Homo sapiens: one gene and its partners. The protein of the gene in region 6 interacts with the protein of the main gene of each other region in a pairwise test. Each region holds a gene or a part of one and is shown on either strand. Other genes may lie near its edges.

Region 1 (3,500 bases), on a different chromosome or scaffold from region 6:
AGCTGAATAAGGCTGAGCATGGTGGCTAACACCTGTAATCCCAGCAGCTCAGGAGGCTGAGGCAGAAGGACTGCTTGAGGCCAGAAGTTGGAGACCTGGGCAATTTACTGAGATCCTGTCTCTACAAAAAATTAAAAACTAGCTGGGTGTGGTGACATGTGCCTGTAGTCCTAGCTATTCAGGAGGCTGGGTGGGAGGATCCCTTGTGCCTAGGAGTTCACGGTTGTGGTGAGCTATGATCATGCCACTGTGCATCAGCCTGAACTAGAGGGTAAGACCCCATCTCTTTAAAAAACAAAACAAAAGCTAGGCGCGGTGGCTCACGCTTGTAATCCCAGCACTTTGGGAGGCCAAGGCAGGCGGATCACGAGGTCAGGAGATCGAGACCATCCTGGCTAACACGGTGAAACCCCGTCTCTACTAAAAATGCAAAAACAAAATTAGCCAGGTGTGGTGGTGGGCGCCTGTAGTCCCAGCTACTCGGGAGGCTGAGGCAGGAGAATGGCATGAACCCGGGAGACGGAGCTTGCAGGGAGCCGAGATCGTGCCACTGCACTCCAGCCTGGGCGACAGAACGAGACCTCATCTCAAAAACACACACACACACACACACACAAAAACTGATTAATATTCCATTGTATGGATGTATTACATTTTGTTTATTCATCAGTTAATGGACACTTGTTATATCAGTTGGGGTTCTCCAGAGAAACAAAACCTATAGGATGTTTTGTAAATCTCTTTATACCAAGATATTTATTTTTTATTTTATTTATTTATTTTTTTTGAGACAGAGTCTTGCTCTGTCACCCAGGCTGGAGTACAGTGGCGCGATCTTGGCTCACTGCAAGCTCCGCCTCCCGGGTTCACGCCATTCTCCTGCCTCAGCCTCCCGAGTAGCTGGGACTACAGGCGCCCACCACCATGCCCAGCTAGTTTTTTTTGTATTTTTAGTAGAGATGGGGTTTCACCATGTTAGCCAGGATGGTCTTGATCTCCTGACCTCATGATCTGCCTGCCTCGGCCTCCCAAAGTGCTGGGATTACAGGTGTGAGCCACCACGCCCGGCCCTAAGAGATTTATTTTAAGGAATTGTTTCATGGGATTATGGATACCAACGAGATCTGCAGTCAGCAAGCCGGAGGCCCAGGAGAGCTGGTGGTGTGGTTTTATTCTACAGGCCATCAGGCCACCAGGCAGAAGGAGTTCCCTCTTCCTCACCGGAGGGTCACCCTTTTTCTTCTCTTCAGGCCTTCTGCTGATTGGATGATGCCCATCCACACTGGGGAGGGCCATCTGCTTTACTCAGTCCACCAGTTCAATGCTCATTTCACCCAGAAACCCTCACAGACACACCCAGAATAATGCTTGACCAAGTGTCTGGGCACTCAGGCCCAGTCCAGCTGGCATATACAATTAGCCATCACACTTAGGTTGCTTCCACCTTGTAGCTGTTGGGAATAATGCTACTGTGAACATGGGTGTCATAAACTTCGTTTTGCTAGGAAGCGTTTCCTTAGTCACCCCCAACTATGTTCTTTCCTTATTCTGCCTTTCATCATCTGACATTATTTGTCCTGAGTCTTTGTCCTTCTCCCTTTTCTACCCTCTCCCCCTACTGTGGTTCTGAGAAGAATTTAATGCAGTTTACTCAGTGCATTTGTTTTCAATGCATGTTGCTTTATAAATGTTCTCAGGTGGGTGGAGGGCATGGTGCATGGACCTTCTTTTTCCTGGGACCCTAGCCCCTTCTCCCTGGGCCTTGAGAAGGCTTTGTCTGGAAGTGCTCAGAGTGGCATCCCTCCCTCCCTTCCTCTTCCAAGGAGATCCTGCTGGGCTCCCATCTTTAGGGCTCCTTGTCCTTAGTTGTGTTCTGGGCTCGTGCATAGAGCTGCTCTGCTTCCATGATGATTCTCCTCCTAGTTCTCTGTTAGGACCTAACATGGTGGTCAGTCTAACAGTCTCCTAGTGACCACTGTATGATGGTGACTGCACTCTTGCCTCATTATTAGCTAAACTGGAATGCTAGCTGGCCATTTCCATCCTGTATCATTCCATACTTTGTCTTGAAATCCTAGATAAAAGACTTGAACCACCACCCTGCTCACAGCACCCATTATACAGATGAGAAAACTAAGGCTTGGCAAGGGGAGTCACATGATGCTAGGGGAGGACTTTCCCCCAGCACCACACAGCCTCTTTTGACCTTCAGGGAATGGGTTGAGAATATTGGTTGGTTCTGGCTGCCATTCTTGTATGGTTTTGTGTTCCCTTTTCCTTTTTTTTCTATTTTTACCTGGGCTGAAAAGTCGATGACATAGTTTTTTCAGACTTTGTCTCTGAGGCCAGTTAGAAGTATATTTTACCTTGCAACCCAATGGATACACACAACTGAAACACTGTCTACCCTTATTTTCTGTCATGTATTCTGATATTTTCTATTCTATTTTATTATACAGTAGTCCCCCCTTATCAGCAGGGGACATGTTCCAAGATCCCCAGTGGACGCCTGAAGCCACAGATAGTACTGAACCCTGTATATACTATGCGTGAATTTTTTTTCCTTCTTCACAATTTCACGGATAGAAGATTTGTTCTTACAGGAGATCTTAGCAACCTCAGCATGCAATTTATTTTCTTTGTAAGTCAAGAGCTTTCACCTTTTCACTTAAAGCTGGCCAGGTGCAGTGGCTCACACCTGTAATCCCAGCACTTTTGGGAGGCTGAGGCAGGTGGATCACTTGAGGTCAGGAGCTCGAGACCAGCCTGGCCAACATGATGAAACTGTCTCTACTAAAAATACAAAAATTAGCTGAGTGTGGTGGTGCATGCCTGAAGTCCCAGCTACTTGGGAGGCTGAGACAGGAGAATCACTTGAACCTGGGAGGTGGAGGTTGCAGTGAGCCGAGATTGCACCAGTGCACTCTAGCCTGGTGACAGAGCAAGACTCTGTCTCAAAAAAAGAAAGCACTTTATGGCTTCTCTTTGGCATATCTGAATTGCCAACATCACTACTCTTGCTCTGTGGAGTCATAATGAAGTCAAATATGGGTTACTTGAATACAAGCACTGTGATACAACTATAGTGAACTGATAACCAAGACAGCTACGGACAGCTACTGAAAGACTAATGGGACGTTAGTGCATACAGTGTGGATATACTGCACAAAGGGATAATCTGCATCCTGGGCAGCACTGAATGGGACATAGCAAGATTTTATCATGCTACTCGGAATGGTACACTATTTAAAAACTTATGAATTATTTCTGGAATTTTCCATTTAATATTTTTGGACTGTAGTTGACCACAGGTAACTGAAACCATTGTGGATAAGGGTGGACTACTGCATTTAATTTAAAGAAATCCTAGTTCCAGCCCACTACATTGGGTTTAGGACTCATAATGGGTTGAAATTTTGATCTGAAATATATTGTTGTGTCATATCCATCGCTCCATCCTCTTCCATAGTATATCATTTCATTATTTCTTTCCTCAAACT
Region 2 (3,500 bases), on a different chromosome or scaffold from region 6:
ACCCATAGTGGGCCTTTACCCAGTTACTAGCACCTAGAGGAGCCCTGCTTTTGCAGGATGTCTTGACACAGTATTTATCATGTCCTCTTTCTGTTACACCTGTGGTGCCAGAGAGGCAGGAGGTTAAGCAGGGCGCTCGCTCAGCTTTCCAGCAGAAAGAGATGCTCCCCAGGGTCCGGGGGCAGGACTCTGGCTCGGGAGACCCTGACTGTGGTCTAGCCGTTGCCTCCCCCTAGTGATAAGGGGAGACGGCAAGATCCCATGGGCCGTGAAGGAGCAGAGGGGCCGCTAATGGGGTCCTGGGAGGGTTCTTTTGTCCTTGGGTAGAGGGAGCTTCAGGGGCCCGGGTGGGTAGGTGTGGAGAGGACGTGTGAAGCTAGCCAGCCCGACATCGTTCTGAGAGAATCATACCGTGTTTAGATCTTCAGGATAATGGTTCCCTGAATAGCCACTAAGGGATGCTTCAGCCCTGTGCAGTGCTTCCCTCACGTTTCAAAAAGGCCAGTATTTTGGAAAGATAACCTTTTTTCAATATAGTCTGCATATTATCAGAAAGCATGGGTGAGTACCTGCAAGGAGTACCATGTGGACCCCTGCGAGGGGTACCGTGGGGGCCCCTGCGAGGGGTACTGTGTGGACCCCTGTGAGGAGTATCATGGGGGCCCCTGCGAGGGGTACCGTGCGGGCCCCCGCGAGGAGTATCGAGGAGTACCGTGTGGACCCCTGCCTTCTGCAGTGAGATCTCGGGACGTTTGCGGGAGACTCCGCTGCAGCCACCGCGGTGCCGTCAGAGAGGCCTCCTTGGTAGAGGTGGGTGCGCTGTGCCGTGTCCAGGCTGCTCTGACTCCTTGTCCTGCTTCTGGAGGTGCTGGTTGGCCATGGAGTCCAGCTGGAGGCGGCCTGGCCCCTCCCTTCCTCCCTGAGAGGCCTGTTCCTGTCCAGGTCCCCTCACTCTTCACATCGTTGATAATTCCTGCCGAATCGGTGACTTCATTAGGGATGGCAGAGGGTAGTTTCTGAACTTTATCACTTCTTCGGTGTTTATTAACTGGGATTGTTTGTAAAGATTAGCTTTCCCCATCAACCGGTGTCGGCTGGCTGTCCTGAAACACAATTCGTGAAAGAAAGGCAAGTGAGATGCTTTTCCCTCATCTTCCCGTACCTCAAGGAGAGAGTTGCTTTTCTTTGTAGATGTGTGTGGGCTTTCTCTCCCCTGAGTGTTGTGAAGAGCCCGTGGATTTTCCTGCATCCTGTGTGTCTGAGCCAGTGGCACTTACCCGTCTCCGCTGGCTCTGGTGGGCTGCTCCTGGGAGGGCGTCCGTTCCTGCTGACTGCACCTGAGCCAGCGGGGAACGCACTCACCGCCTCCTCACGAGTCCTTTCTCTCTGGGTTCCTGTGAACCTTTGCGCTGGATTTTTTAGGCCGGGTTGTGAGTCTGTACAGGTGTGGAATTGCTGTGCTTGCCTGGAAATCACATCTTTTCACTGTGTGGGGACCCACGGGCCTCTTGGAAGATAAAGGCCTCTTGCCTTTGATTATTTTGTCTGATACTGGCATGGCCACCCCAGCTGTCTTTTAGAGAGTATTCACCTAGTACTTTTTCCTTCTATGATTTTACATTTTTCTGAAAACTTTTGTTTAAGACACGTGCACCATCGATAGCACGTAGCTGGATTTTTAAAAAGTCAAATCTAAGAAGACTAAGTCTTTTGATGGGAATGCGCTAGTTTCATCTTTCTAGTTAAGAGATGCCTAGATGGATACACAGATTTACAGATTTTTTACATGTTTTCTTTGGTGCTTTTATTTGTCCTACATTTTCTTATTTTTTTTCTCTCATTGCCTTTTGAATTTATTAAATGGAGTTTTAAAAAATTCAGTTGTTTTATCTCAAGTACATACACACTGTGCTGGGAAAGTACAGGGGCTCCCCTGGAAATGGTAACATGCACTTATCAGCTTCTGCCATGAGGGAGTCTCTGAGTGAACTCTGGCTCCGGAGGCTGCCCGGCTAAAGAATAAATAAAGAAGAAGTTAATCATTGTCTGTGCCACCTCCGGATCCACGCGGAGACCTCGGCCGCCCCGTCCTGGCGCGGGTGCTGCTGTGCCTTGTGTGGGTGCTACCTCCCCTTGGGGCTCCCGCAGGAATGTGTTACTTCTCTCGAGTCAGCGCTTGTTTAGATTTCCTTCTGTGTTTCTCTTTTCTTATCCCTTCTGGTGTCTCGGGCCTTCCATTTGGGGTCACTTTCCTTTAGCTTCAGGTTCATCTAGAATTTTCCTTGCTGGCAAACTTGATTTTTGCTTGTACATGCCTTTTCTCTGTGTCCTGACAGCTATTTTTGTGTGTGTGGAACTCCAGGTGGGCGGTACTCCAGGTGGACAGTACTCCCGGTGGACGGTCACTTGTCCTCAGTGCCTCGAAGGTGGGACCCCGCCCTCTCCTGGCTCCTGGAGTGGCTGCTGAGCAGCCCGGGAGTGGATGTCCCTTCCTCCGGCTTTCCTTCGTTTTTGGCCCTCTGTTTGCTGCCTTCTGAATACGCTGCTTCTGGCCTGCCTCCCAGTTCACTTGAGGTCTTTTTTTTTTTTTTTTTTTTTACATGGAGGCTCGCTCTGTAGCCCAGGCTGGAGTGCAGTGGCACAATCTCAACTCACTGCAACCTCTTCCTCCCAGGTTCAAGCGATTTTCCTGCCTCAGACTCCCGAGTAGCTGGGATTACAGGCGTCCACCACCACGCCCAGCTAATTTTTGTATTTTTAGTAGAGATGGGGTTTCACCATGTTGGCCAGGCTGTTCTCGAACTCCTGGTCTCAAGTGATCCGCCCACCTCAGCCTCCCAAAGTTTTGGGATTACAGGCGTGAGCCACTGCACCCGGCCCTAACCTCTGTTCATCTGGGCCTCTAACACTGTCCCTTGACCTGCCCGACAGGCCCCTGGTTAGGCCTGCTGTGCAAGTGTTTCCTGTCCCTGAGTCACTGTCTCCAGATCCTGCGGGCCCTGCCCTGGCACCGTGCTGGTGAGGCCTGCCTTGCTGCCCTGTGGGAAGTGCAGCGTGCCCCTGCCACCCGGCCTTGCCCTGTTTCTTTGCACAGCGCCTCCTGCCGTTAGCATACAGCATAACTCATGATGCTTCCCGTTTGTCTTCTTCCACTCACGTGTAAGCATCCCAGGAGCAGGGGTGCCCCAGCACCTCACCATGGAAGCCTCAGGCACACAGTGACACGCAGAGGCTGCCGCAGCGCGCGCCCTGTGCCCGGCGCCCAGGGCCTGCCACGTCACATGCCGTCCCTCTCTGGATCTCTGTCCGCCCTTGGCCTGCTGCTTGACTGGCTTTTGTTTCATCTGAATGAGAAGGGGTTTTCCGCCTCTGCCTTGCTTGACCGTCCCAGCACTTAGGATGCAAGGCTGCCTGCAGTGGAGTTCCTGGCAGAGACCCCATTTAAAGTCGCTTGTTCTGTAGTCAGCTTTTATAATCTATGCTTATTCTCATTCTGTCCT
Region 3 (2,521 bases), on a different chromosome or scaffold from region 6:
AGGAGAGGAAGATGAGGCACAGGGAGAGGAAAGGAGAAAGTGGACAGAGAGACACAATGGAGAATGGAGAGTGGAGAGATGACAGAGAAAGAGAGAAGAGGGAGGAGGCGAGATCAAGAGACAGTGCTTTCCTGTTCTCCCCTCCACAGGCCATGGTCTTGTCAGTAGCTTCGCTGAGTTCCGAGAGGAGAGGAGAGAAGCCGCAGCACAGAATGGAGAGGGAGGGCCAGGTGAAGGCTGGACCAGGGCTGAGGGCCGGGGAGGGGACACTGACCGATCCGGCTGTCCATGACGTAGGTCTCAATGATGGCGCTCTTCCGGCAGAGGTCCTCTGCCATGGAAGCACTGCTCACTTCCAGGTGCTTCACCTGCAAGATGGCCCAGCCCACCTGAGACCCCTCTACTGTACATGTTCACACATGAGGCGGGCCCGGGCAGACCCCACACCCACAAGGGCACTTCAAGTGGGGATGGGCAGGCAGGCAGGCAGGCAGCACCTTCTCCTCCAGCATCCATTTCTCCTGCTGTGTCTCTGCCAGCCGCTGAAAGAGCTCAGCCACTTCCTCATCTGACAGCTCTGCTGGCCGAGGGGGCTGGGCTTGAGGGCTGCTGGATAAGGACTGCAGGAAAGAGAAGGGGAGAGGCCAGCCCCGGGCTCAGCACCACCGACCCCAGACAGGTGTCAGGGACTGGGGAGGAGAACCAGGCCAGAGGTGGGTGAGAGAACATGGGCCCTGAAGCTGGGACTGTTGGCCCATCTTGGTACCCTCAGACTCTGTTTTCTCCTCTGCCTAAATGGGGGTAGAGAGTAACCACATCAGAGCCTTGTGGAGAGGATTGAAGGAAGATCCCAAAGCAAATGAGATCTAACTTTCAGCTGACAGGAAAACTGGAAGAGAGGGACATGTTAAATCATACCACCAGGAAGCCAGCAGAAAAACCCAAAAGGTAGCATACTTCCTGTGGGGTGACTGGGCTGGCCTCTTCAACAAATTGGTCTCAGGAAAAAAGGGACCGCACTAAAGAGATTTAAGGGCCATAAAACAACCAGATGTAACATGTGCTCTGAATCTGAATGCTAGTTTTCATAAAACCAGCAAGAAAGGACATTCTGGGGCCAACTAGAGAAATCTGGTTAAGGTCAAAGTATCAGACGACATGAATTTTTTTTTTTTTTTTGAGACAGAATTTCACTCTTGTTGCCCAGGCTGGAGTGCAATGGCAAGATCTTGGCTCACTGCAACCTCCAACTCCCAGGATCAAGCGATTCTCCTGCCTCAGCCTCCCGAGTAGATGGAATTACAGGCACGCGCCACTACGCCCAGCTAATTTTTGTATTTTTAGTAGAGATGGGGTTTCACCATGTTGGCCAGGCTGGTCTTGAACTCCTGACCTCAAGTGATCTGCCCGCCTCGGCCTCCCAAAGTACTGGGATTATAGGCAGGAGCCACCGCACCCAGCCAATGACATGAAAATTGATCAAATTGGGAAGGTAGAGACAACAGTTGAATAAAAAACAGGTTAATCTCATCTAGGTTTTAAAAAGAGAGAGAATTCTGGAAGGGTATGAACTAAGAATTTATTTTATTTATTTATTTTTTGAGATGGAGTTTCACTGTTGCCCAGGCTGGAGTGCAGTGGTGTGATCTCGGCTCATTGCAACCTCCACCTCCCAGGTTCAAGCGATTCTCTTGCCTCAACCTTTCGAGTAGCTGGGACTACAGGCACGCACCACCACGCCCGGCTAATTTTTGTATTTTAGTAGAGATGAGGTTTTGCTATGTTGGCCAGGCCAGTTCTCAAACTCCTAACCTCAAGTGATCTGCCCGCCTCAGCCTCCCAAAGTGCTAGGGTTACAGGCATGAGCCACCGCGCCCAGCCCTGAACTAAGAATTTATAATGGTGACGTCTGGATGGTGAAAATATTATTTTTTTTTGACATTTAAGGTTTTTTTGTTTTTGTTTTTTTTTTAAATAGAGTCGGAGTTTTACCACGTTTCCCAGGCTGGTCTTAAACTCCTGAGCTCAAGTGATCCGCCCACCTTGGCCTCCCAAAGTGTAGGATTATAGGGATGAGCCACCACACCCGGCCAGACATTTAAGGTTTTAAAAAAATCTTTGCTCATTTGTGGTTTTTAAAAAATGTACTACAATGAGCACATACTATTTGTGGAACAATAAAAAAGTTATTTCCAAAGGAAAGTGGCTGGTAAGGAGGCTGACATGACAGCCGGCAATAATAATTAGTGATCATTACAAGTTGGAAAAAGGGACCTTCTCCTTGGATGGTGCACCTACTATGAGCCACATAATTTATGGCACCAGAGAAGGGGGAATTAGCCCACAGATGATTAAACAGAAAGTCAGAGAGAGAGAATGACTGGCCTGTCCTGCATGTCGCAATCTGAATCCAAGTTGGTGGGCTTGGGGAAAAGTTGACAAGAAAATATGTGTGCTGCGCCCAAAGTAGGAGATGGGTTTAGGTGAGGAGAAAAGGGGAGGGGTTCTCAGATTTTTGGGT
Region 4 (3,500 bases), on a different chromosome or scaffold from region 6:
AAAAGGGTCATGGCTGAGGGTTTGGAAGGGAACTTGGTTTAGGATATGGAATATCTAGAAAAATGCCTGTGTGACTGTATGTTCACCTAACTTTTTTTGGCCTTAGTTTCTTCATTATACTGATGGAAATATATATGGAGGGTTTTTGTAAATTGTGAAGTGTAATACAGATGTAAAGATTTTTTTGGGGTTTTTTGTTTTGAGACAGAGTCTCGCTCTGTCACTCATGCTGGAGTGCAATGGCACAATCTCAGTTCATTGCAACCTCCGCCTCCCAGGTCCAAGCGATTTTCCTGCCTCAGCCTCTCAAGTAGCTGGGATTACAGGTGCCCACCACCACGCCCAGCTAATTTTTGAATTTTTAGTAGAGATGGGGTTTCCCCATGTTGGTCAGGCTGGTCTCCAACTCCTGATCTCAGGTGATCCACCCACCTCAACAAATTTAAATATGGCTTTAAAATATAGTTTGAAAACTGAATTAAGAATTAAAGGGGGCCAGGTGCAGTGGCTCATGCCTGTAATCCCAACAGTTTGGGAGGCCAAGGCAGGAGGAACACTTGAGATTAGGAGTTCGAGACTAGCCTGAGAAACATAACAAGACTGTCTCTCTACAAAACATAAAAAAAATTAGCTGAGCATGGTGACATGCGCCTGTAGTCCTAGCTACTTGGAAGGCTGAGGCAGGAGGACTGCTTGAGCCTAGGAAGTCGAGATGGCAGTGAGCGGTGATTGCACCACTGCACTCCAGCCTGGGTTGCAGAGTGACACCCTGCCTCAAAAATGAATAAGAATTAAAGAGATGAGGCCGGATGCCTCGGTATTTTTGGCGCTGCGATCGCGACACTGCACTCCAGCTTGGGGTGACAAGACTGTGTCAAAAAAAAAAAAAAGAACCTCTGACATACAAAATACTATTTAAAAAAGGGGTGAGGGGGCAGGGCATGGTGGCTTATGCCTATTATCCTAATACTTTGGGAGCCTGAGGCACGAGGCTCACTGGAGCCCAGGAGTTTGAAACCAGCCTAGGGAACATTTAAAAAAAAGGTGGGGGGGCGGTGCGGGGGCAGGGAATACATCTCTTTTCAAACTCCTGACCTCAGGTGTTCTACCCACCTCGGCCTCCCAAAGTGCTGGAATTACAGGTGTGAGCCACCATGCCAGGCCGAGACAGTGGTTTCTGAGAATTCTTTGAAATTGATAATTTTGTGGGCATTTCAGTGCATTTTTCTGGAAAGGTCCATTACCTTCAACAGAAATGTTGAAAAACAAAATGTTAGTGGTTACTGGTAAACTGTTTTGTGGTTGTGACTGTTTTTCAGTTTTTACCTGCTTGCTTTTCCCATTTTGTCAGCTGTCCCACCCATCACAATAGTTAACAGATTTGCTGTATAACCCTGCAGATAATTGCTAGTTTCTGCATCTTTTTATATACAAGATATGTCATTTAGTTTCTTGGTCTTTAGTTATTATTTTGTTCACAGCTTGGTGGGTGCAGTGCTTTTGGTCTTTCCATTTTCTTCCCTTTAATTATTTTATAAATTTTTTGAGACGGAGTCTCCCTCTTGCCCAGGCTGGAGTGCAGTGGCATGATCTTGGCTCACTGCAACCTCCACCTCCCAGGCTCAAGTGCTGCTTCTGCCTCAGCCTCCCTAGTAGCTGAGATTACAGGCACCTGCCATCAGGCCTGGCTAAGTTTTGTATTTTTAGTAGAGATGGGGTTTCACCATGTTGACCAGGCTGGTCTTGAACTCCTGACCTGAAGTGATCTGCCCACCTCAGCCTCCCAAAGTGCTGGGATTATAGCCATGAGCTTCTGTGCCTGGCCTTTTTTTGAGATGGAGTCTCACTCTGTCGCCCAGGCTGGGGTGCAGTGGTGCGATCTCGGTTCACTGCAACCTCCAACTCCCGGGTTCAAGTGATTCTCCTGCCTCAGCCTCCCGAGTAGCTGGGATTATAGGCGCCTGGCACCATACTTAGCTAATTTTTGTATTTTTAGTAGAGATGAGGTTTCACCATGTTGGCCAGGCTGGTCTTGAACTCCTGACCTCGTGATCCACCTGCCTCAGCCTCCCAAAGTGCTGGGATTACAGGCGTGAGCCACCGCACTCGGCTTCTTCTCTTTAATTCTTATTTATTTATTTTTGAGACAAAGTGTCACTCTGCCACCCAGGCTGGAGTGCAGTGGTGCAGTCACGGCTCACTGCCATCTCGACCTCCTAGGCTCAAGCAGTCCTCCTGCCTCAGCCTCCCAAGTAGCTGGGACTATAGGCGCATGTCACCATGCTCGGCTAATTTTTTTTATTTTGTAGAGAGAGAGTCTTGTTATGTTTCCCAGGCTAGTCTCGAACTCCTAATCTCAAGTGTTCCTCCTGCCTTGGCCTCCCAAACTGTTGGGATTACAGGCATGAGCCACTGCGTCTGGCCCCCTTTAATTCTTAATTCAGTTTTCAAATTATATTTTAAAGCCATATTTCAATTTTTTTCCTACACTTTTCATGCAAGAATAAGTTTTTAAAACTCTTAGTTGCCAGGCATGGTGGCTCATGCCTGTAATCCCAGCACTTTGGGAGGCTGAAGCGGGTGGATCACCTGAGGTCAGGAGTTCAAGACCAGCCTGACCAACATGGCGAAACCCCGTCTCTAATAAAAATACAAAAAATTAGCTGGGCGTGGTGGCACATGCCTGTAATCCCAGCTACTTGAGAGGCTGAGGCAGGAGAGTCGCTTGAACCCAGGAGGCAGAGGTTGCAGTGAGCCGAGATCATGCCATTGCACTCCAGCCTGGGTGACAAGAGTAAAAACTCTGTCTCTAAATAAATAAAAACATACATACATACAAACATATGTACAACTCTTAAGTTATCCTTTCTCCGAAACTGAGAATCTGGGCTTGGCTTGTGGCTCACGCCTGTAATCCAGCACAGGAAATTTAGAAATTAGCCCAGGTCAGTAGTGCGCCTTGTAGTCCCAGCTACTTGGGAGGCTGAGGTGGGAGGGTCACTTGAGTCCTGGAATTTAAGATGTCAGTGAGCTATGATTGTATCACTGCACTGTAGCCTATGCACCAAACAAGAACCGCCCCCCCATCTCAAAAAAAGAATTACGATGAAAGTGTAGTATAAGGGAAATACTAGTCTATGTTTTTGTATTAAAATTAACATTTCAAGAGTTGATAGCTAATATTTTTTAATACGGGGGGGATATGAATTTTTTTTTTTTTTTTTTGTTTTGGAGACAGGGTCTCACTCTATCACCCAGGCTGGAGGGCAGTGGTGCCATCACAGTTTGCTGCAGCCTCGACCTCCCAGACACAGGTGATCCTTTCTTTCACATCAGCCTTCTAAGTAGCTGGGACCACAGGTGAGTGCTGCCATGTCCAGCGAATTTTTTATTTTTTGTAGAGATGGGCTTCTGCCATGTCTCAGAATTTTGGTAGGCTGAGGCTGGTGGATCGCTTGAACCCAGGAATTTGAGACCAGCCTGGCCAACATGGTGAAACC
Region 5 (3,500 bases), on a different chromosome or scaffold from region 6:
GTTAAAATGCCATCCTATCATATTTTTTTGTTGCTCAAATTGTTCTAGCTTTGACCTTTAAGAGCCCCTTCAGGTTAACTCCTGTGTTCTTTTTATAAGCCCCATCTCTTTTTGAGCATTTCCCAGTTTGTGGATCCACATGAGGTTCCAGGTTCATCTTGTAGTTTCCTTGCTCCAACTCAGGAATCAACCAGTTCTCCTACGGGCTGAGTGCTGGTTCCTTTCGTTGAAGAGTGGTATTTAGAACCCAAGACCCAGTGATTTTTTTTTAAAAAGCATCGTTTCTTACCTGCGTCATAAAGTAATTGTGTCTCATATTCACATAGGCCCAGATGTAAAGAAGAAAACTGAAGAGGAAGATGTTGAATGTGAAGATGATCTCATTTTAGCATGTCAGCCGGAAAGTTCGCTTAAAGCATTGGATTTTGATATCAGTGAAACTCGGACAGGTATAATGTTACTAACTAATTTCTTTTGAGGAGAGTGGGTTGGTAGTATTATGTATTGTTCTTTGAGATGATAGAGAAATTTACTAATTTTCTCCAGTTTTAGGAAGGAGTTATTAATTTGCAGATAAGATTAATTTTTTCCTGCCTGTTGGCAATTTTGGTGTTTGCCAAGTCTTATCAGAATGGCAAGGAAAAAATGGAAATTTACTCTTTTCCCCCTACTTTCTAGAGTTTTGATTTAGTGATGGAAGAAATTGAAACTAAGAAAGGCTATTAACGTTTTTAGTTAACATCATGTTTTTATATTTCTGTATTGAAATCCTTAGCTGTTTCCTGATGTTTCAGGATTAAATTTTAGTCTGTGCTCACAAATACAAATATATTAACTGAAAGTGCAGCCCTGGAAATTAAAGCTAGTAAAATGCCTTTAAGAGGTTTTTTTTGAGAGACAAGGTCTCGCTGTGTTGCCCAAGTTGACCTTGAACTCCTGGGCTCAAGTGATCCTTCTACCTCAGCCTCCGAGTAGCTGGGACTACAAGCATGCACCATTGTGCCCAGCTTGAGTTCAGTTTTTGTTTGTTTGTTTGTTTTTTTGAGATAGAGTCTTGCTCTGTTGCCCGGGCTGGAGTGCAGTGGCACGATCTCAGTTCAATGCAACCTTGCCTCCCAAGTTCAGTGATTCTCCTGCCTCAGCCTCCTACGTATCTGGGATTACTGGCACATGCCACCATGCCTGTCTAATTTTTGTATTTTTAGTAGAGATTGGGTTTCGCCATGTTGGCCAGGCTGACCTCAAATGACCTACCCACCTCATCCTCCCAGAGTGCTGGGATTATTATAGGCGTGAGCCACCACGCCCGGCCTAGTTTTCGTTTAAACAAATTTGTTTCGTAATCGAGTAGTATTCAACATAAAAATAGGTTGCTGTGATATTATGTTTCATTTTAATATTTTAAAATTTTGAATGTTATTGTTAGTTTCCCTAAGCCTCTTAGGAAAACATGGTAGACCAGGGGGAATATTCATTCTGTTTGAAGGTGAGGGGTTTCCTGTGTCATTACACAGTAGCTTTTAAAAGGTGCTCTGAGTTTTAAGGCTTTTGAATGGTGTCCAGGACTAGTAGAAGGGAACAAAGAGGAAATGAAAGAGTGGGGAGCATCCAGGGCTCTCATTTATGCTCTAGCCTAAGTAGCTCCCATTTTAATCATTTATTTGTGTGTGGATTTGACATATGATATCTTTTGAAAACAGGATCTACCATGAAAAGAAAAAGGATAAAAATCATACTCATAAATAAATACTATCAATTGGTCAGTAGTTCATATTGACCCTAATACTGTATTTGACTTATTACTATGTTAGTACAGCAGTCAAAATCAATTCAGGAAAAGAACAGTATCAGAGGGAAGGTGTAAAACATCTTACATAAACCTACTTTCTTGTCTTGAATAACTTTTCATCCTAAGTGAGGCAGGTAGTAGTAGCCAGGACGATTAAGTCTCTCAACAGAATTGAGGGTTAATTAGTGATTCTTTTTTTTTTTTTTTTTTTTGGAGATGGAGTCTTGCTCTGTTGCCCAGGCTGGAGTTCAATGGCACAAACTCGGCTCACTGCAACCTCCGCCTCCCAGGTTCAAGCAATTTTCCTGCCTCAGCCTCCCGAGTAGCTGGAATTACAGGCACACGCCACCATGCCCAGCTAATTTTTGTATTTTAGTAGAGACGGGGGTTTCACCATGTTGGCCAGGCTGGTCTCAAACTCCTGAACTCAGGTGATCCACTCCCTCGGCCTCCCAAAGGGTTGGGATTGCAGGCGTGAGCCACCACGCCCAGCCATGATCCTTAAACTTGTTTTAAGAGGTATAATAACTGGAAATCATGATGCTCTTTAAGGAATACCAATTGGATGTATTATTGATGTATTTAATTCCATCATATGAAGTAGAAACAGTTTCATTAGCAGAAGGCATTATATTATAGCTACACAATATAAAGAATATAAATTCATAGTTTTCCCAACTCAGAGGTCTAACAACAGTGAAACTGATAAATAAATTTTATATTAGCAGCTATAAATCTTTGGTTTCAGGACTCCTTTACACTCTTAAAAATTATATATTAGATATTGTACCAACTTACACTACTGACTGCAGCAGTTCAAGATTAGTCCCAACCCACTGCTTCCCCTGGGTAACCTTGGCAGGTGGAAATCATTTATAAATCAAGTATTTTAATCTTATGTACAATATAGTTAGAAACTTTTTACTTAAAATTATAATTTAAATTTAATTTTGGTAGATAGCGATTAATGGTTATTTTAGTTGATTTGCCATGTAATTTACATTTCTTTCCCAGCTGCCCCCCCATTTCATTTTTTTCAGTATTTGAATGTAAGGCTTTTTAAAAAATAAAGTTTCTTTTACATTTCTAGAAGTAGAAGTAGAAGAATTACCTCCGATTGATCATGGCATTCCTATTACAGACCGAAGAAGTACTTTTCAGGCACACTTGGCTCCAGTGGTTTGTCCCAAACAGGTAAAGTTCCTTTGTCTAGCTCACTTTGATGATTACTAAAATAATTCAGGTAAATGATTTTGCAATAATCCCCTTGTTTTTACTTTTATGTTTTATTTTCATATAAGATAAAAATTATTTGTTCATTTTTCTACTCCCAAATTACTGTGAATCACGGAAGATTTGTTTTGTTTCTGTTTGTCTCTGCTTTCTTTCTTTTTTTTTGTGATGGTGTCTCACCATGTTGCCCAGGCTGGTCTCAATCTGGACTCAATCAGCCCTCCTGCCTCCAGCCCTCCCAATCCAAGGTATTGGGATTACAGGCATAAGCCACCTAGCCAGGCCTGTCACTGCTTTCAAAATTGTATCTAAACTCTGATTAGGGGTTAACCCTCTAATGAATCTTTAAATAAGAAATACCCATTGTGTTATTAGAGAAAATTATGATGCTTAATACCTTGTCAAAAAGAATTATTTGTCCTGTCGAATGGGAGTTCTGTGAAACTAAGTCCATTCCTCTGTTATTATTCAACAAAGG
Region 6 (3,500 bases):
CTAGGTCCGATTTCTTTCTATAAGATAAAAATGCCTAATTATTTACTACTAACTCATGCAAGTTCCTGAGAAAATAGCAAAATAACTGGCTGCTCAACATTCACTATTAGAGCTTCAATGTGCCTTTGGAGGTCATACATTAGCTTCAGTTTCTTCATCACTTTCATTATCAGAAATGAAATGAGAATTGTGTCAGATGGTATTTATGGTTCTTTTCAACTCTAGATGGATACACACATCTAGGGAATAATAACTCCTCCCCCCCACCATTTTCCAGAAAGAAGGAATTCTACCTTCTTCATCAAGTCCACCGATGATGTTGTAAACATAGTATGGAAAGAAGCGCCTTGAATACAGGATTGTAGACAGCATTGCAGCAATTGCCCCCGTAGTCATGGCCTTATTATTGGAATGCTTATACATCTGCAATTATTGATAAAAGTCACAGGCATGTAGAGGCAGAGGCCATTATAGACTAGAACAATCAACAGTATAAAGTGAATAAATAAATGCATACCACAGTGGAAGGGGAAAGCATGCCTATTTCCTTCATGATCAACCAACACAGTATTACTAACATAAAATTTTAAGGGAAGGAATGCCAAGTTTGCCCTCAGCTCTCTGGTTTAGACTCTATTTTCCATACCACCCTTATCTCAGGTACTGCTAATCCAAGAGCTAATGTGTATGAAAGGGCACATGAAGTGGCCTAAGGAAGATGGGTTTAAATCCATCTCTCTCCCTCACTCTGCATATAGACCAGGGGTCAACAAACTACCCCTGTAGTTTGGCTCAGGGGCCAAATCCAGCCTACTCCCTATTGCTATGAATATTGTCCGTGGCTGCTTTTTCACTACAGAAGCAGATCAAATGAGGCCCATAAAGCTGTAAATATTTACTATCTGGTCCTTTACAGAAAAATTACGGCAATCCCTGATCAAACCTAGATGTAAGTCCCTCTCTTTGTGGAGCAGATCTCTGTGAGAACAGAAGACACAGGGCAGCACCCTTACTCTGCATGATTTTAATACACAGCAGTGGTCGTGATCCTTAAAACATCTACAGTAGAGAACACAAGCATCCAAAACAGGGTCTTAGCATGACAATACAGTGACTGCAAATCCTAGCTTTACTATACCTTTGCGAGCCCTACATTACCCACTGGTAGAGAAACTTCACAAAAATTATAAACATAAAATGAATTCAAGATCACCAATTTTTGTTAACCACATAGCAAACATCTCTAATGAGAAACTTAATGGCCAGGCATAGTGGCTCACACCTGTAATCCCAACTGAGGCGGGAGAATGTTTGAGCCCAGGAGATGAAGGCTACAGTGAGCTACAATGGCGCCACTGTACTCCAGCCTGTGCAACAAAGTGAGACGCTGTCTCTAAATAAATAGACAGATAGATATCTAACTAGCACCGTAAAATTAAATAATGACAGTCAAAACACTGAAAAATGATTAGAAATGAACTACAAGTAACAGGTAAGTTTTTTATAGAGGAATGCCTTTCCAAGATAAAAACTATAAAAAATTATTCATAGGCCGGGCACAGTGGCTCACTGCTGGCCTGTAATCCCAGCACTTTGGGAGGCCGAGATGGGTGGATCACCTGAAGTCAGGGGTTCGAGACCAGCCTGGCCAACATGGTGAAACCCCGTCTCTACTAAAATACAAAAATTAGACAGGGGTGGTGACAGGTGCCTGTAATCTCAGCTACTCGGGAGGCTGTGGCAGGATAATCACTTGAACCCAGGAGGCAGAGGTTGCAGTGAGCCAAGATCATGCCATTGCACTCCAGCCTGGGCAACAAGAGTGAAACTCTGTCTCAAAAAAAAAAAAAAAAATTTCATTCCATTTCATTTCGAAACCAAGCACCAACATTTATTTACTTCACCACCTAATAAAGTATGAGAGAAAAACTTCAGGAAGGGGTGTGTATTATGTAGAATTCACCATTCCTTGTTTTATTAACAATATCATGTTTACTTTTGTCTTCTAACTCCCATTTATAAAATAAGCATTAGGAATTATCATATAAATATGCCAATAAATGTAAGTCACTATGGCTTTCAATGTAAGTTTCTAAAAAAGCATTAACAATTGATAAATACTGAGTGAAATCCTTTCTACACATTCAAAAAGCATGTGTCAGTTAAATAAATATACTATATACTCCAGTAACCACTCATAAGTGTAAATAATCTCAAGTGTTATTCATGAATAGGCAAAACAGAATGTGATCACCCCTGACTTCTGGCAGCTGGCTATCAACTGAAGCTGGTCAGGTGACAGACGTTAATGGTGCATGTTGTGCCTCCCATCCAAGCTCCCAGCTTATTCATTCTTTCGTATTTCTACTCATGCATCCTGCCAACTAAGAGCACAGCACTGTAAAGAGGAAAAGCTTGTCAACTGATGGTGATGCAAACCAAGCTCCTGTGTCAAATCTTTCCTGGGCTCTCTCCTGCCACAGAAATTGATTTGCTTTGTTTTTGAGGGAAGAGTATCTTCAGAAGAAGAACTCCTCCCAGGCTCCTTCTAAAAGGGTAGAGAACCCTTCATATGATACAAGACTTTAACAAATGGAATGTGCTGCTGTTTCACATTATGCTACTTTAATGACCCTGCATTAATGATATCATTTCATTTCTAGCATACATTTGTAATTCATCTACTAACCTAGTGACTCTCTAGCTATCTGACCAACAGTCATGCTGTAGGCTTAAAAGAATTTAATGAATTACTATTAATTTAAAATAGTGTAGAAATGTACAAAAGCATCTACCTTTAGTCTTGCTTCAATAATCTTTGTCAGCGTAAGACAGTCTCCATGAAAACCGCTGCATCCAATGACTGTTTTGTCTGTTCTGTAAAAAGCACATTTCAGAAAACTGAGCTGGTTAGATAGTAGAGCAAAACATATCTTCGGCAATTTTAAATTTAAAATTCTGATTCCCACTATTCCCTAAATGGTAATGGGACAAACAGTCACCCTTCTGGGGAGGAGGGGTCTGTATTCCATCTTACCCCTTATTCCAGATGAATTACAGGTGGATCAAAGACTTTAAAAATGCGACTATGAATGGACTAAATAAATCATGGGTGAATTTTTTTTACTATCTTGGGCTGAGGAAGATACGTAGGTAGGTTAATTGACTGATTTTTGAGACGGAGTTTCGCTCTTGTCACCCAGGCTGGAATGCAGTGGCGCAATCTTGGCTCACTGCAACTTCCGCCTCCTGGGTTCAAGCAATTCCCCTGCCTCAGCCTCCCAAGTATCTGGGATTACAGGCACCCGCCACCACACCCAGCTGATTTTTGTATTTTTAGTACAGATGGGGTTTCACCATGTTGGCCAGGCTGGTCTCAAACTCCTGACCTCAGGTAATCCACCTGCCTTGGCCTCCAAAGTGCTGGGATTACAGGTGTGAACCACTGCACCCAGCCTCGTGAAGGTAGATTTAAACAACACAATCCAAGGGCCACACAG
Region 7 (3,500 bases), on a different chromosome or scaffold from region 6:
GACAGATGTGAAAGCACTTTCTAAACCATAAGTGCAACACTCATGGTCGAGCTATAATGATGCTTATTGGCGGCTCCCTCACCCTTCCCACCTGGAATCTTCTCCAGGGAGGAGAAATACAGGAGCGAATCTTTCCTGTAGTTCAACATCTCTGCTTTGCAGAGCCCTCCCCTCTACCCCTTCCAACTCTGCATTTGCTGTTGCCCTGATCATTCACATTTGTCATTTAATTACCGTTCACAGACAGGCGGTTAAGTGGAGTGTTCAAAGCTCAGACAGACCTGCACTGGAACCCTACCTGTGGCACTTCCTACTTGAGAGACCTTGGGCAGGTCACCTCGACATCTCTAGGCTCATCTACAAAATGGGGATGACGGTAACTCATACAGACATGCTGCAAAGAGCAAATCAGGTCTTTCATGTAAAGTGCTCAGTGTGCTGCCTTGCACACAGTTAAGTGCTCAAACAACTGTAGCTCTTACGATTGCTGAATACTGCTCCGTTTCCTGAATTTGTCCTGTCTCCTCCCCAGCTGGATCTGAATCCCTGAGAACAAGGTCCCTGTCCTATCCATTTCTGTGACTATCTCTGACCCCACTCCCATTCCAGAAAAGTGCTGAGTTCAGAGTATCTTCTATAAAGACACTGGCTGAACTGATTTAAGAGAACTGTTTCCTTTCAAACAGTGCTTAAATCTTCACTGTAGTCCCATCACAGCCAGCTTGAGAAAGTCAATGTCCACAGGGTAAAGTAACGTCTTCTGACCCTATTATCCAATTAAAAATATGTGAGTAATTCCTAAAGCACGAGGCCAAGCCATTTACACTACTGAGCTACCCTACCATGTGAGATACACTACGTTCGTTAACAGCCTAAACATGTTCCAGAGAGGTAGACTTGATGTGGGAACCTCTGCCACATTCTAGAAGACTCTTTTTCACCTAGAACATAAACTTTGATCTTATAGATGCAGATACTATTAAAGGGAACACATATGTTTGAATGTAGAAAATCCTATAGACCATCCCTGGGACAGTGTGTCAGTACTTTGTTATAGGGGAAAGAGTTCTAGTATTTTGGTACCAAACCCCCTTGGATGTCATAAGCTTCCCATATAATTCTACATCTTTATGGACAGGCTTTAGCAATTTATAAAATAAACATAATTGAAATCTTTATGTTTTGAAAAGTGTAACTATAAAACTATAAACTATAACACTGTCAACAAAAAATTCCTACTCTCAGATGCCATCAGTAACTATTCTCAATTGCTCCAGAAATCATGTTGCTGTGACAATTTCTGTTATTTTTTCTTAACTGACCTAGAGATCACAAAATAAAAATGTTATTTGGGAACCAACTACATGATGACCCAAGAATGAGCAAAAGATTGAAAATAACCCACAGCACACTCCCAGGCTGTTCAATCTTTTGTCTCTTGATGTTGAAGGCCTTCTGGAGCAACCACTTTGAAAGCGTATCTATCTCAAGCCTGGTCCTTCATTGGAATTCTTGCATCTTCCTCAACTTGGACTAGGAAGAAGAAAAGCAACAACGTCTATCATCTCTGGGAGTTTCCAGCTTACTGAATCCTGGGCACTAGCATCCTGTTGCTCTTCAGCTTCCCCTCTCTTATCCTTACAATTCACTTCCTTCGTAGTGACCTTACCACTTTTCTAGTAGTACACAACAGAAAGTGCGGGAAAGCCTGCCTTGCTGGAGAACTAAATCAAGGACATGATGTTCCCTTTGTATGGTGAACGTAAATTTTCTACTAAAGGGTAAATTCGTTATTTCGAATGGCTATATAGAGTGGTACTTTGATAATACAAAATTCCAGCTGACCAACCAGGCACGGTGGCTCACGCCTGTAATCCCAGCACTTTGGGAGGCTGAGGCAGGTGGATCACCTGAGGTCAGGAGTTTGAGACCAGCCTGGCCAACATGGTAAAACTCTGTCTCTACTAAAAATACAAAAAATTAGCCAAGCGTGGTGGCAGGTGCTTGTAATCCCAGCTACTCAGGAGGCTGAGGCAGGAGAATCGCCTGAACCTGGGAGGCAGGGGTTGCAGTGAGCCGAGATCATGCCATTGCACTCCAGCCTGGATAAAAAGAGTGAACCTCCGTCTCAAAAAAAAAAAAAAAAAAAAAAGAATTCCAACTGACCAAGTTTAGGGGACTGGAAAGACTAGAATCCAAGAATATTCTCTTTCTGGGCCACAGCATTTCACTTGATTATTAACCTTTTGGCTCCTAGCTCTCTTAACAGTAAACAGGTACTGGGAGCAGTGCTGGCCCCAGTGATATTCTTTCCCTCAGCAGAAAGATCTATGTGCTATCAATGATCGCTCATGTAAGAAATGCTGACATTTCCCTCCTATTTTTCCTCTTAAAGTATATATTAATATTTGACTTCTTCCCAATGCATCCCGACCCACCCTTTCTATCCCTCAAAGCAAAACCAGAGAGATCCTGGCGAGAGCTTCGTTTGAAGGCTGACCCACACCGGGTCTGAGCAGCAGTCCTGCTACCTGAAGTCCCCCTTGATGGGGTAATTGTGGCTTTGCTTGTAATCGTTCTCGCTCTGACCTCTCTCATGTTCTGCTTCCTTGCTGTGCAGTGCTGTGCCCTCACCCTGCTACCTGGGATTGCAGAGGTCCAAGATGGACAAGGTTGAGGCCCAACGCCACCATCTACTCTCCACCCTGACCTTATGGGTACTTCACTCTTAGAGGCAAAATCTTACGTGGTTTCATTTTTGGCTGATTGTGTGCAAATAAAAAACTGCACATCCAAAGTCTTTCCTGTACAGTATTTGCACCAACACTGCACATGGAAAAGGTGGCAATGTTTGTGGCTACCTACCCACCCATCATGCAGCTACACTTGCTGGAAAGTCTCAGAAATGCTGTTTTAGCTCTGCTCATCCCTGACGTGAGCTGGGAACAAGGATGGTAAGAGGAAAGCATGCTGTTCCCCCTGTCCCAAAATGCTGGTGTGAAAGGAGCACAAAGTCAGGAAAATGAGGAGCTGCTTGATGATAACTAGCACTATCAAGAGCTGGTTAGGCAGACAGTCACACTTTTATTTTCCTTATGCTTTTTGACTGTAGATTTAATTTAATTTTGTCATGGCAGGATTAGCAACTGGGCCACAGAGGTGAAGGGACATTATAAGACAGCACATTAATCCTCTATCCCACCCAAGGCAGAAGCAAAACCAAACAAATAGCAGCTTCCTGGAAATTGAATTTCTGTTATCCAGATGTCAAAGATGTAATACCCCAATTACACAAACTATTGCCAGTGAAGCATGCCAACGAATATGCAATGTAAATGGGGTGAGCGCAGAGCCACAAAACTGCACAGTCAGCATCTGGCTCTGTGAGTGAGTGATAATTAGCACTGTGTGTAGACACTAATAAACATTTATGTCTGAAATTACAACTTTTAGCAATGTTAATAAGGGATATATTGGCAATCTGTAAAATAAAAGGTCTT

What was found.
Region 1: the proteins of PSMB1 (region 6) and PIP4K2B interact in binary tests that used the Homo sapiens proteins (3 or more experiments, as listed by UniProt).
Region 2: the proteins of PSMB1 (region 6) and TOLLIP interact in binary tests that used the Homo sapiens proteins (3 or more experiments, as listed by UniProt).
Region 3: the proteins of PSMB1 (region 6) and GRIPAP1 interact in binary tests that used the Homo sapiens proteins (3 or more experiments, as listed by UniProt).
Region 4: the proteins of PSMB1 (region 6) and GPBP1 interact in binary tests that used the Homo sapiens proteins (3 or more experiments, as listed by UniProt).
Region 5: the proteins of PSMB1 (region 6) and IMPACT interact in binary tests that used the Homo sapiens proteins (3 or more experiments, as listed by UniProt).
Region 7: the proteins of PSMB1 (region 6) and BEND7 interact in binary tests that used the Homo sapiens proteins (3 or more experiments, as listed by UniProt).

Annotation. Positions count from the first base shown.
Region 1 is NC_000017.11:38,772,057-38,775,556, reverse strand, and holds part of PIP4K2B (phosphatidylinositol 5-phosphate 4-kinase type-2 beta), read left to right. Parts: intron 1-3,500. UniProt on the Homo sapiens protein: Participates in the biosynthesis of phosphatidylinositol 4,5-bisphosphate. Preferentially utilizes GTP, rather than ATP, for PI(5)P phosphorylation and its activity reflects changes in direct proportion to the physiological GTP concentration.
Region 2 is NC_000011.10:1,303,133-1,306,632, reverse strand, and holds part of TOLLIP (toll-interacting protein), read left to right. Parts: intron 1-3,500. UniProt on the Homo sapiens protein: Component of the signaling pathway of IL-1 and Toll-like receptors. Inhibits cell activation by microbial products. Recruits IRAK1 to the IL-1 receptor complex. Inhibits IRAK1 phosphorylation and kinase activity.
Region 3 is NC_000023.11:48,975,744-48,978,264, forward strand, and holds part of GRIPAP1 (GRIP1-associated protein 1), read right to left. Parts: intron 621-2,521; coding exon 498-620; intron 369-497; coding exon 275-368; intron 1-274. UniProt on the Homo sapiens protein: Regulates the endosomal recycling back to the neuronal plasma membrane, possibly by connecting early and late recycling endosomal domains and promoting segregation of recycling endosomes from early endosomal membranes.
Region 4 is NC_000005.10:57,180,559-57,184,058, forward strand, and holds part of GPBP1 (vasculin), read left to right. Parts: intron 1-3,500. UniProt on the Homo sapiens protein: Functions as a GC-rich promoter-specific transactivating transcription factor.
Region 5 is NC_000018.10:24,440,170-24,443,669, forward strand, and holds part of IMPACT (protein IMPACT), read left to right. Parts: intron 1-326; coding exon 327-449; intron 450-2,879; coding exon 2,880-2,983; intron 2,984-3,500. UniProt on the Homo sapiens protein: Translational regulator that ensures constant high levels of translation upon a variety of stress conditions, such as amino acid starvation, UV-C irradiation, proteasome inhibitor treatment and glucose deprivation.
Region 6 is NC_000006.12:170,543,308-170,546,807, forward strand, and holds part of PSMB1 (proteasome subunit beta type-1), read right to left. Parts: intron 2,878-3,500; coding exon 2,796-2,877; intron 424-2,795; coding exon 294-423; intron 1-293. UniProt on the Homo sapiens protein: Non-catalytic component of the 20S core proteasome complex involved in the proteolytic degradation of most intracellular proteins. This complex plays numerous essential roles within the cell by associating with different regulatory particles.
Region 7 is NC_000010.11:13,522,515-13,526,014, forward strand, and holds part of BEND7 (BEN domain-containing protein 7), read right to left. Parts: intron 1-3,500.